Linked DNA regions of Homo sapiens. The protein of the gene in region 2 purifies or fractionates together with the protein of the main gene of each other region. This does not show direct contact. Each region holds a gene or a part of one and is shown on either strand. Other genes may lie near its edges. The genes, in order: MBTD1, H2BC6 and MIER3.

Region 1 (3,286 bases), on a different chromosome or scaffold from region 2:
TTGCTGCTGAGGTTAATGGAGTTAAAAAAAAGTCTCCTACTAGCCAGGCATGGTGGCTCACGCGGTCAGGAGATCAAGACCATCCTGGCTAACACGGTGAAACCCCGTCTCGACTAAAAATACAAAAAATTAGCCGGTCGTGGTGGCAGGCGCCTGTAGTCCCAGCTACTCAGGAGGCTGAGGCAGGAGAATGGTGTGAACATGGGAGGTGGAGGTTGCAGTGAGCCGATATAGCGCCACTGCACTCCAGCCTGGGTGACAGAGCAAGACTCCATCTCAAAAAAAAAAAAAAAAAAAAAAGTCTCCTACTAAGCATGCCAACCCCAAAACACGATGTTCTAGCTAAGATGATTTAATTTCCCCATAAAGGTCCCTATTCACCTTGGCTCCTGCTGTGGTTTTTGCCCTTTCCCTCCCTGCCCATGAAATCCCACCTCCAATGCAACCTCATCCATATGTCTAACCATACTACTCTTGGCTCCCTTGGCAGCTAGTGGAAAATTCTTCCTTACAGCACTCATGTGCCTGCTACCCCTTGTAAGAGGAAGGGGCTGATCCAACTTTCATAGGGGTCTCTGACTGCTTATAGAGGGCACGCAATAGAAAAGCAACCCCCCAAACCAAAGCATATTAAAGAACTGCTCAAATCCAGCTTAACTTTAACATTTTATTTTGTGTAAAAAAGGGCAAATTTAGTGAATTATTTTCATCTTGTACACAAAGTTATAATTTTAATGCTTTTCACATCCATGCTGAAAATTTGCAATTTGGTAAAAATGAAAGGAACATAAATTTTTCCAAAGGAATTTTTCACGCCATTATATATACACTTCATGAGAAAGTTTCAAACACTTTCTCAATGATCACGAGTTACCAAGAAAATAAAAGATTAAATTTGTACAGATATTGATCTATATATCAAATACATACAGAAATGATGTAAAAACCTTATGCAGTTTACTTTGACCTCTGTCCTCAAAAGATTTGCCCAGGGACAGATGCTTTTCTTTTGTATAAATGACTGTGGCTTTATTTAAAATATGAAAATCAAAGGAAGAAACCCAGTTTAATCACAGTATTTTTAAAATCCCTTCCCAATATTAAAGGATCATTACCAATATATAGCACCATAATACAAATATTGATGGGAGAGGGTATTCACATCACGCAAAATTAATAATAATAATAAAAACAAACAAACACTGAAAACCCGTGTTAGTATCGTAGAATAAGAAGTTGATAACAGCTTTAGCTTTCCTCATACACGGCAAGGAAAAGGTTAAAGAGTTTAAACTACCAAAAGTCCCCAAATAAATCCTAACAGGAAAAACAAAACAAAACAAAAACAAACCCAAGGTCAGCAGTACATTTTGAACCGTAAAAGAGAATGGGGCGATTGAGTTGTACAACTGGAGTTATGGCTAAGACATAAATCTCCTCTGCATTAATTATTTTTCGGTTCGTCGGCAGTAGGAGTTAGTGTGTGAACAATGAAAGAGGGCTTTAGGTTGTGTTCAGACTGTAGAAAAGTCCTTACCAACCTTCAACTGTTGGTCACGGGATCAAGACAAGAAACACTTCATGAATTAGGAAATTCTAAAACACTCAGAGCCTGGGTTTGCTATAGAATTGGAAGCTTATGAAACCTGGGTATAAATGAGCATTTCATAGATTACCAGGACTGACTAGCTCCAAATCCTCTCTCTCCTGGTTTAGTCAGTTCCCCATGGAGCTCCTAAATCCAAGGTACTGGCAGAGTACACTACACAACAGGCTTCTTGTGCCTGTGCTGTGGAATTAGTCCTGGGTTTAATTCAGTGAGCCTGAGAATAAAGACTGCTCTAACCCTTGCTTTGGAATACTTCTAGGCTTTAAGTTTACAAGAAGATTTTTCAAAGTTAAAGATATGGGAAGTGTGAGGATGTCACATTTACAGTAGGTCCCTCTCAGCAATGTTAAGATAAATATCCAGTAATTTAACAGCTGAATTCACATATATTTGACACATGAGAATCAACTTGCGTTGATGTGATCTGCATTTATGCCCCTAAAGAGTCAGTATTAAGAAATGGTGACATGCGATTCCATACATTCTTACACTATAAAGTAACAAATTTTACTTCCAGTAGCTATTATAAAACCTTATGTTATTAACCCCTCTTGCATAGAATGAGGTAAACCTGTGCGTATTACCAATGCTATTATTCCCAAAAGTAGAGCAATATTTTAGAAAATAAATTGCTGGTTTTTTTTAACGTTCTATGCATTTTAAAATTCAAACAAAAGTCTTACCTAAAATGGTCTCCTGGGGCTTTCCATTAACATTTTTTAAAGCATTCCATAGGCTGAAGGACTGTAGAGGTTAATCATTTTGATTAATTTCTAATTAGCCCTACCTATATTCCAGAGGAGATGGTCAATATTACCACTCTGAAGAGGCCAGGCTAAGACCCAGAAGCACTTCTAGAACAGATGCAATTAATTCCTGAGAGTTTAGTTTATGAACCTCACTGGTAAACGCTAGAGCGCTCTCATTCAGTCACAACTCAGTAGAAAGTTAGAAAATGCAGAGAGCAAACCTTTCACCAGTTTACCCTTGTATCCTTTTTTTTTTTTTAAAAGGAAGTCATATGAATTTTAAAACAGGGAATGTTCAAAATGGTCCAAATCGGTTATTATTAAAATAAATCCTGAATACAATTAAAGACAATTTTATATATATATATATATATATATATATATATATATATATATATATATATATATGGAATTTTAAGAAAATTAAATTCTCTTTCAAATTAGTTTTCTACCAAATCCAGGATAGATAAAAGCAGAGCTGGAATGATTTTGAAATCTAAACTTATTTTGGCTTTGAATAACTTTCAATTCGATTCTCCTAATACAGAACATCTGTTTTTGGTTGTGGTTATACGAAGCTGTTATTTCACAGATAGAGGGAAATGGCAGAGAACTGATCAGAATCCCTTTCGTGGGGTATTTTTTTTAGAAAGGAAAATAAACTAAGGACAACATTACATTTTCCCCAACCCCTCAATGTGTAGACTGAGATCCTGAATATCTTGTCAACCATTCCAGTTTAACACTTTAGTGTTAGGATAATTCTAATCATTTTTTTAATTAAAAGAGAACATATAAAAGTATCCAGAGTTCTTCCAGTTTCATACAGAACTCCAAATAAATTTTCACAGAATGAAAAATATTTCTGTACAAACATTTAAAATGGGCTGCAATAAAATGCCAACAAGAGAAATAATGACCCTTCCAT
Region 2 (2,631 bases):
CCAACTTCTCTAAGAACATGATAAAGATGAGATGGGGATTGTCGATCAATGAACAATGTGTGTATGTGTTTGTGTGCGAGCGCGAGTGTGGTTGCACACTGAGAATTGTTCAAGTCTAATTGGTGAAACCAGACAGGTGAGGCGGTAGAGGGAAGAGGGTTTTATTTTTTCCTTTAGAACCTAAAATAAAAATCCAAATTAAGACCTTTTTGAAGTAATTGAGGAAAGGAAAAAAGCAAATTCAACATTAAGAACTACTTGAAAGCAGCAGTCTCCTCTCCTCCTTCCCCACCCCCGCTCCAGCCCCCCATAATATGGGCTTCTTTGGTAAAACCCGTATTTTTAAGGACTCTTGAGAAACGAAGTTTCTCTTCGTAGAGCAAAACTATGAAATTACTATTGCCTCTTAGGTACTATCGAGTGATACCTCATAAAACACGGAAACCAGAGTTTCATAAAGCCACCAGCCCAGACAGTGAGTGCCATTTTAAGTTTTAAAAACATGCCTATTTCAGCTGCAGGAGTTTCTAGTATCTTCACATGTCAGTATATAGCTCCAATTGTGAAAAGGTGAGTGGCTCTGAAAAGAGCCTTTGGGTTTACTAAGGCAGTTGCAGGGACAAGTTTACTTGGAGCTGGTGTACTTGGTAACGGCCTTGGTGCCCTCTGACACAGCGTGCTTGGCCAGCTCCCCGGGAAGCAGCAGGCGCACGGCCGTCTGGATCTCCCTGGAGGTGATGGTCGAGCGCTTGTTGTAATGCGCCAGGCGGGAAGCCTCGCCGGCGATGCGCTCGAAGATGTCGTTGACAAAGGAATTCATGATCCCCATGGCTTTAGAGGAGATGCCGGTGTCGGGGTGGACCTGTTTCAGCACCTTGTACACGTATACGGAGTAGCTCTCCTTGCGGCTGCGCTTGCGCTTCTTGCCGTCCTTCTTCTGCGCCTTGGTCACGGCCTTCTTGGAGCCCTTCTTCGGGGCGGGAGCGGATTTCGCTGGCTCAGGCATGCTATCTTTGCTGTTCTGCAGTTAGGAAAGAAAATGAAATCTACATCTCCTGATCCTCGGAATTTGTAGACAATGTTATGTAAATGAAGATTTAGTTTCTCCAACTCTGATTCGTTATTTTGTCGTGAAGTCTGCATGCAAATGAAGGAGCTTAGGTCTACTCTCCCATTGGTCATATCCTGAGAGCAGTTTTCGAGCACGGGCCACCTAATTAACATTTTATATAACAAGTTCCTACCATTGCAAACAATTCAGATTAGTTTACTTATTTTAAAAACCAGAAGTTGCTCTCTTCTATGCTTTTATATGCCAGGGAGACAAAGCTCCTGGCGCAGTTACGTCTTCGAATTGAAAGGTCGGTTTAAAAGCTCCTGGAAAAGCTATGCCTTGACATTCAGATGTAGATTCTGGAGCAGCAGGAGATACCTGAAGAACGGCAAGCTAGGCGACCGGCGATCACCCACACAATCCGGAGAACAGTGTTTCCCACTTTTTACAGAATGCACAAACACATCGTGAAAATAAAGGGTAGGCAATAAAGCTCCGGAGAAAACAACAACAAAAAAGTAAATAGCATCTCTTGAAGAGAGCTAAGACAGGAAAGACTTTCTTAGCCAAAATGGCTACAGTCCTTAATGGAAAAGCAAGTCACACCTAGTTTAGCCCTACAACGAGGATCAGAAATAAATATTCCGTCTAACTAGTGAAAATATTTTTTAAAAAATTAAAATGAAAGCCTATTTAACAAACAGCTTTACTTTCAAGTTAGTATTATTATCTTTGGCTGAAGCCCGCTGCTTAGCTAACTTCAGTTTAAGAAACTGTTCTTCCTAAATTTGACTGTCCTTTTTAAGCCCCCACTCCTTCACCCCACGCTCCCCAGCCCCCTAGCCCTTCTCCTCTCCTGCCACCATTCCCATTTCCCGGGCCCTAAGTCTCCAGGAATGAAGGTGCTGCGCAAAAAGTATTCCGCTCTGTGGGTTAGCATCTAACAAAAGTGTACTCTGAATTTATTGTGTCTTATCTTTGTTTCACAAAATAATTTGTTTTTCTCACTTCAGTGATGACGAGAAAACCTTAAAATCTGTTTAACATCTTTTTTAATTTTCAATGTAGCTAATGTAGCAGTGTTCAGAATAATAGCTAATGTGCTTTATTTGTATTTATTTAATCAAAAAATCTTGGGCCGGGCGCAGTGGCGCAAGCCTGTAATCCCAGCACTTTGGGAGGCCGAGGCGGGTGGATCACCTGAGGGCAGGAGTTCGAGACCAGCCTGACCAACATGGTGAAACCCCGTCTCTACTAAATACAAAAACTTAGCTGAGTAGGGTGGCACACGCCTGTCATCCCAACTACTTGGGAGGCTGAGGCAGGAGAATCGCTTGAACACGGGAGGTGGGGGTTGCAGTGAGCTGAGACTGCACCGCTGTACTCCAGCCTGGGCAACCAGAGCAAAACTCCTTCTTAAAAAAAAAAAAAAAAAGGGCCGGGCGCGGTGGCTCACGCCTGTAATCCCAGCAGTTTGGGAGGCTGAGGCGGGCGGATCACAAGGTCAGGAGATCGAGACCATCCTGGCTAACACGGTGAAACCCTGTCTCTACGAAAAATACAAAAAATTAGCTGGG
Region 3 (3,661 bases), on a different chromosome or scaffold from region 2:
CTCAATTTTTTTAGTGCTGAATAATAGTCCAGTTCTGGAGGTGCCACACTTTGTTTATCCTTTCACCTCAAAGGACATACAGGTTCCTTCCAAGTTTTAGCAATTATGATGAAAGCTGCTATAAACACTTTTGTGTGGACATAAGTTTTCAACGCATTTGGGTAAATGCCAAGGAACAGGATTATTTAATTATACGGTAAGAGTATGGTTGGTATTATAAGAAACTTCCAAGCTATCTTCCAACGTGGCCATACCACTTTGCATTCCTACAGGCAATGAATAAGAGTTCCTGTTGCTTCCCATCCTTACCAGCATTTGGTGGTGTTAGAATATGTTTCTAGTTGTTTTAGTAACAATGTTTCTTCCTTCAGCAACAGCTACTCTCACTGCTGAAGAGAAATTATTTTGAGGCCACAAACCTCTGAATGGCTTGATAAGAAAGGAAAGTCAAGGAGAAATGAGAGTGAGACTTCCTAAAAAATACAGTGAGTCCACTTTCTGTGTCAACTGTTTATGTGAAAAGATATGTGAATATACTATCAGCCATTCCATAAGCAGGCTGTGGCATCTCTGAGCAAATTAGTCATGTTAGAATGATATCTGAAATGCTATAAGGGAACATTAGTAAGTTGTTCTTTTTTCCTACTTAAGTGACTTATAAATTAGTTGCTTACATTCACTGTAACTAGTAATTTATCTGTACTAATCTGCCTAATTTACCTTATTCTTCTGTATAAGATGAAAATCTTTTCCAAAAAGCATGAGTGCATGTTCAAAGCTTCGGCATTCTTCTTCCGTCCATGCAGTCATTCCTTCTAAGAAAAATTTTAAAATAAAATTTATGGGCCCCCAAATTTTCTTATGTGAATCACTGATTTTCAGTATGTTTTCCCTGTAAAAGGTCACAAACTCTCTCTCTCTCTCACACACACACACTCTCTCTCTCACACACACACACACTCTCTCTCTCTCTCTCTCTCTGTATGCAGGAGATTTCAGTTAGAATTACCAAAAGCATGCATACTACAGTTCAAGTCTAGAATACAAAAATATAAACACTGCTTTTTTTCCACTACATTATGGGATGAGAATTTAAGTTTTCTATAACATGCCTGTTTTTCTGATTAAAAAAAATTTTTTTAAACAATGAGCGTATTTTTCAATTAGAAAAAAAAACTCTACCTCCTTTATTGGGGGAAAGAAGCTCTGTTTTGGTCTTACTTCAAAACCACAAGTTCTAGCCAGGTGCGGTGGCTCATGCCTGTAATCCCAGCACTTTGGGAGGCCAGCGCAGGAGGATCACTTGAGCCCAGGAGTTTGAAATCAGCATGGGCAACATGGAAAAACCCTGTCTTTACAAAAAAACAAACTAGCCAGGCGTGGTGGCGGGCACCTATAGTTCCGGCTACTTGGGAAGCTGAGGTGGGAGGATCACCTGAGCCCACGAGATCAAGGCTATACTAAGCTGTGATCATGCCACTGCCCTCCAGCCTGGGAGACAGAGTGAGACCCTGTCTCAAAAAAGACAAAAAACAAAACCACAAGTTCTTTAATTAGAGACCATAAGTAAAGCATAATCAACACATATTTATTTGAAATTGGTGTGTGGAGTGCTATACTCTGGAAATATAAAGGAAATAAGAAACAGTCCATGCTCTCAAAATAATAAATCCCATTCAATTTCCCAGCAGATGTTAATGTTGGTGAATTCCGTATCTACTTGGGGCAGAGACCTGGAAGGTCTTCAAAGAGTCACAGCCTAGACTTAAGATTAGTTATTACTCATCTGTATCTCTGAAGTGTCTCATTTGACATGGGAGACCAGGTCCCCAAAGCCATTAATAGCAGTCCGTAATAAAGGTGAAAAATAGTTTGAACTAAGGAAGAAACCAGTATTTTGAGAGTTTTGAGAGCCTAAAATAATTTTTTTTCAAAGAAGCAGCTTTTCTAAGGGAGACATTTTAATAGACTATCTCAATTCATAAGTTTAAATGTATTATTTTTAGTTTTAATACCTTCCCAAGTCATCTAGTAATATTACTAAGTATTATTTTCATTCTACACATATTTAATGAAAGCTATGGTGCATGCAATCCATTTATATAATGACAAAAAATACTGAAATAGAAGTTAACCATTTTCCTTGACACACACAAAACATAAGAACTATAAAATGTTATTACATGATTACTAAAAATACAATTCTTGAAATAAATTCAGCGGAATATATTATACATGTTTCTTTTTTAATCTTTAATCTCCTTTTCATTTCCTGTCTGGCTGAAAAAAAAAAAGAAAAAATCTTTTTTTCAATGAAATCATAAAACCATTCTTTTTAATTACTTTGGACATATTGTCATGTCTGGGGTCTGCTTTGTTCTGTAACTATTTCTTCCAGAAAGTAGAGGTGGCAGGGGGGTGACTAATTTGTGTTTGAACAGTCTCTGATACATCTAAAAATAGAGTGCAAGAAAAGGAAAAATTATTTGCTATGGAGCTGAACCAGATCTTACAAAAGTGTTACAGGATTGCTCTGTCCCTTAGGATACTTTGCTTATTCTGATCCCCAAATGACCATCCCTGTCATGTCCCTCTCTTAAACCCAAGTGTTTCTTACCTTGAGAGGCCTTTCCATTGCAGCAGTATCTTTCGATTGCTTCCTTTATATTGTGGTTACACTTGAGAAGTTCATATAATGCCTGGGATGGATATTCAATAAAAAGTATTAAAAGTTCATACCTAACAGCATTTTAAAAAACAGGTGTAAGAGTTTTGATAAATATTGGAGTCTTGATAAACACTGAAATCCTCTCTAATTTCAGGGCATTTGAAGGTATATTTGCCCAAGCATTTAGTCTATATAACTATCATGCAGATTGACTCTGGTACCATGTGAGTTTGTTCATCCTCATGCTACCTCTCAGAAGTCACCTGCCTGTATCATTCTTGACTTTTTTTTAAAAACAAACAAATAAAAACACTAGGTCTAAGATTAGAGTTTCCCCTATTTTAGATGTTTCTTTTTCTAGTTTGGAAAAATTAGTTACAGTCTGTCCCTTGATGTCATTTCCTCCCTGTCTCTTTTAGTTTTAATATAAGGGAACAGCAGCAGGCCTGGAATAATAGGCATGGCACTTCAGACTAGGATTATAACGGTCTCCGTTATTTCCATCTACTATGAAAGGTGCCACTTTTCAAAATTAGAATATATTCCTATTAAATCTGCTTGGAATTATGAACATAATAAACAGGAATAACAGAATTCAATTGAAAGTTAAATAATCTATCTACCTTCCCAAGTAAGTTTTAAGGAAGTGAAGATGGTTCAATATTAGGAAAACTTTTAATATATCAATAGCCTACATTTAAAAAAATCATCTCTGAGCTAATTACCCTGATCTGATCACTATACATTATGTGTATCAAGACATCACTGTGTACCTAAATATGTATAATTAAATTTCAATTTAAAAAAATCAAATCAACAGCTGCTTAAAAAGTATCTGATATTCATTTCTAATTTTAAAAAGAAAAAACCCATAATAGTTATAAATAGATGGATATTATCTTGCTGTAATAAAGACAGTAGAACCAAGGATCAGTATTATTCTTAATGTAAAAACCTTAGATGTATTACTTCCACCAAAAGCAGGCACCAAAT

The links.
Region 1: the proteins of H2BC6 (region 2) and MBTD1 purify together in Homo sapiens (affinity purification with mass spectrometry, with the first as the bait; one large-scale study listed by BioGRID). This does not show direct contact.
Region 3: the proteins of H2BC6 (region 2) and MIER3 purify together in Homo sapiens (affinity purification with mass spectrometry, with the first as the bait; one large-scale study listed by BioGRID). This does not show direct contact.

What each region holds. Positions count from the first base shown.
Region 1 is NC_000017.11:51,176,772-51,180,057, forward strand, and holds the end of MBTD1 (MBT domain-containing protein 1), read right to left. Parts: 3' UTR 654-3,286; downstream 1-653. UniProt on the Homo sapiens protein: Chromatin reader component of the NuA4 histone acetyltransferase complex, a multiprotein complex involved in transcriptional activation of select genes principally by acetylation of nucleosomal histones H4 and H2A.
Region 2 is NC_000006.12:26,182,171-26,184,801, reverse strand, and holds H2BC6 (histone H2B type 1-C/E/F/G/I), read right to left. Parts: upstream 1,042-2,631; 5' UTR 1,007-1,041; coding exon 626-1,006; 3' UTR 572-625; downstream 1-571. UniProt on the Homo sapiens protein: Core component of nucleosome. Nucleosomes wrap and compact DNA into chromatin, limiting DNA accessibility to the cellular machineries which require DNA as a template.
Region 3 is NC_000005.10:56,928,047-56,931,707, forward strand, and holds part of MIER3 (mesoderm induction early response protein 3), read right to left. Parts: intron 2,700-3,661; coding exon 2,618-2,699; intron 855-2,617; exon of another isoform or gene 816-854; coding exon 721-815; exon of another isoform or gene 1-720.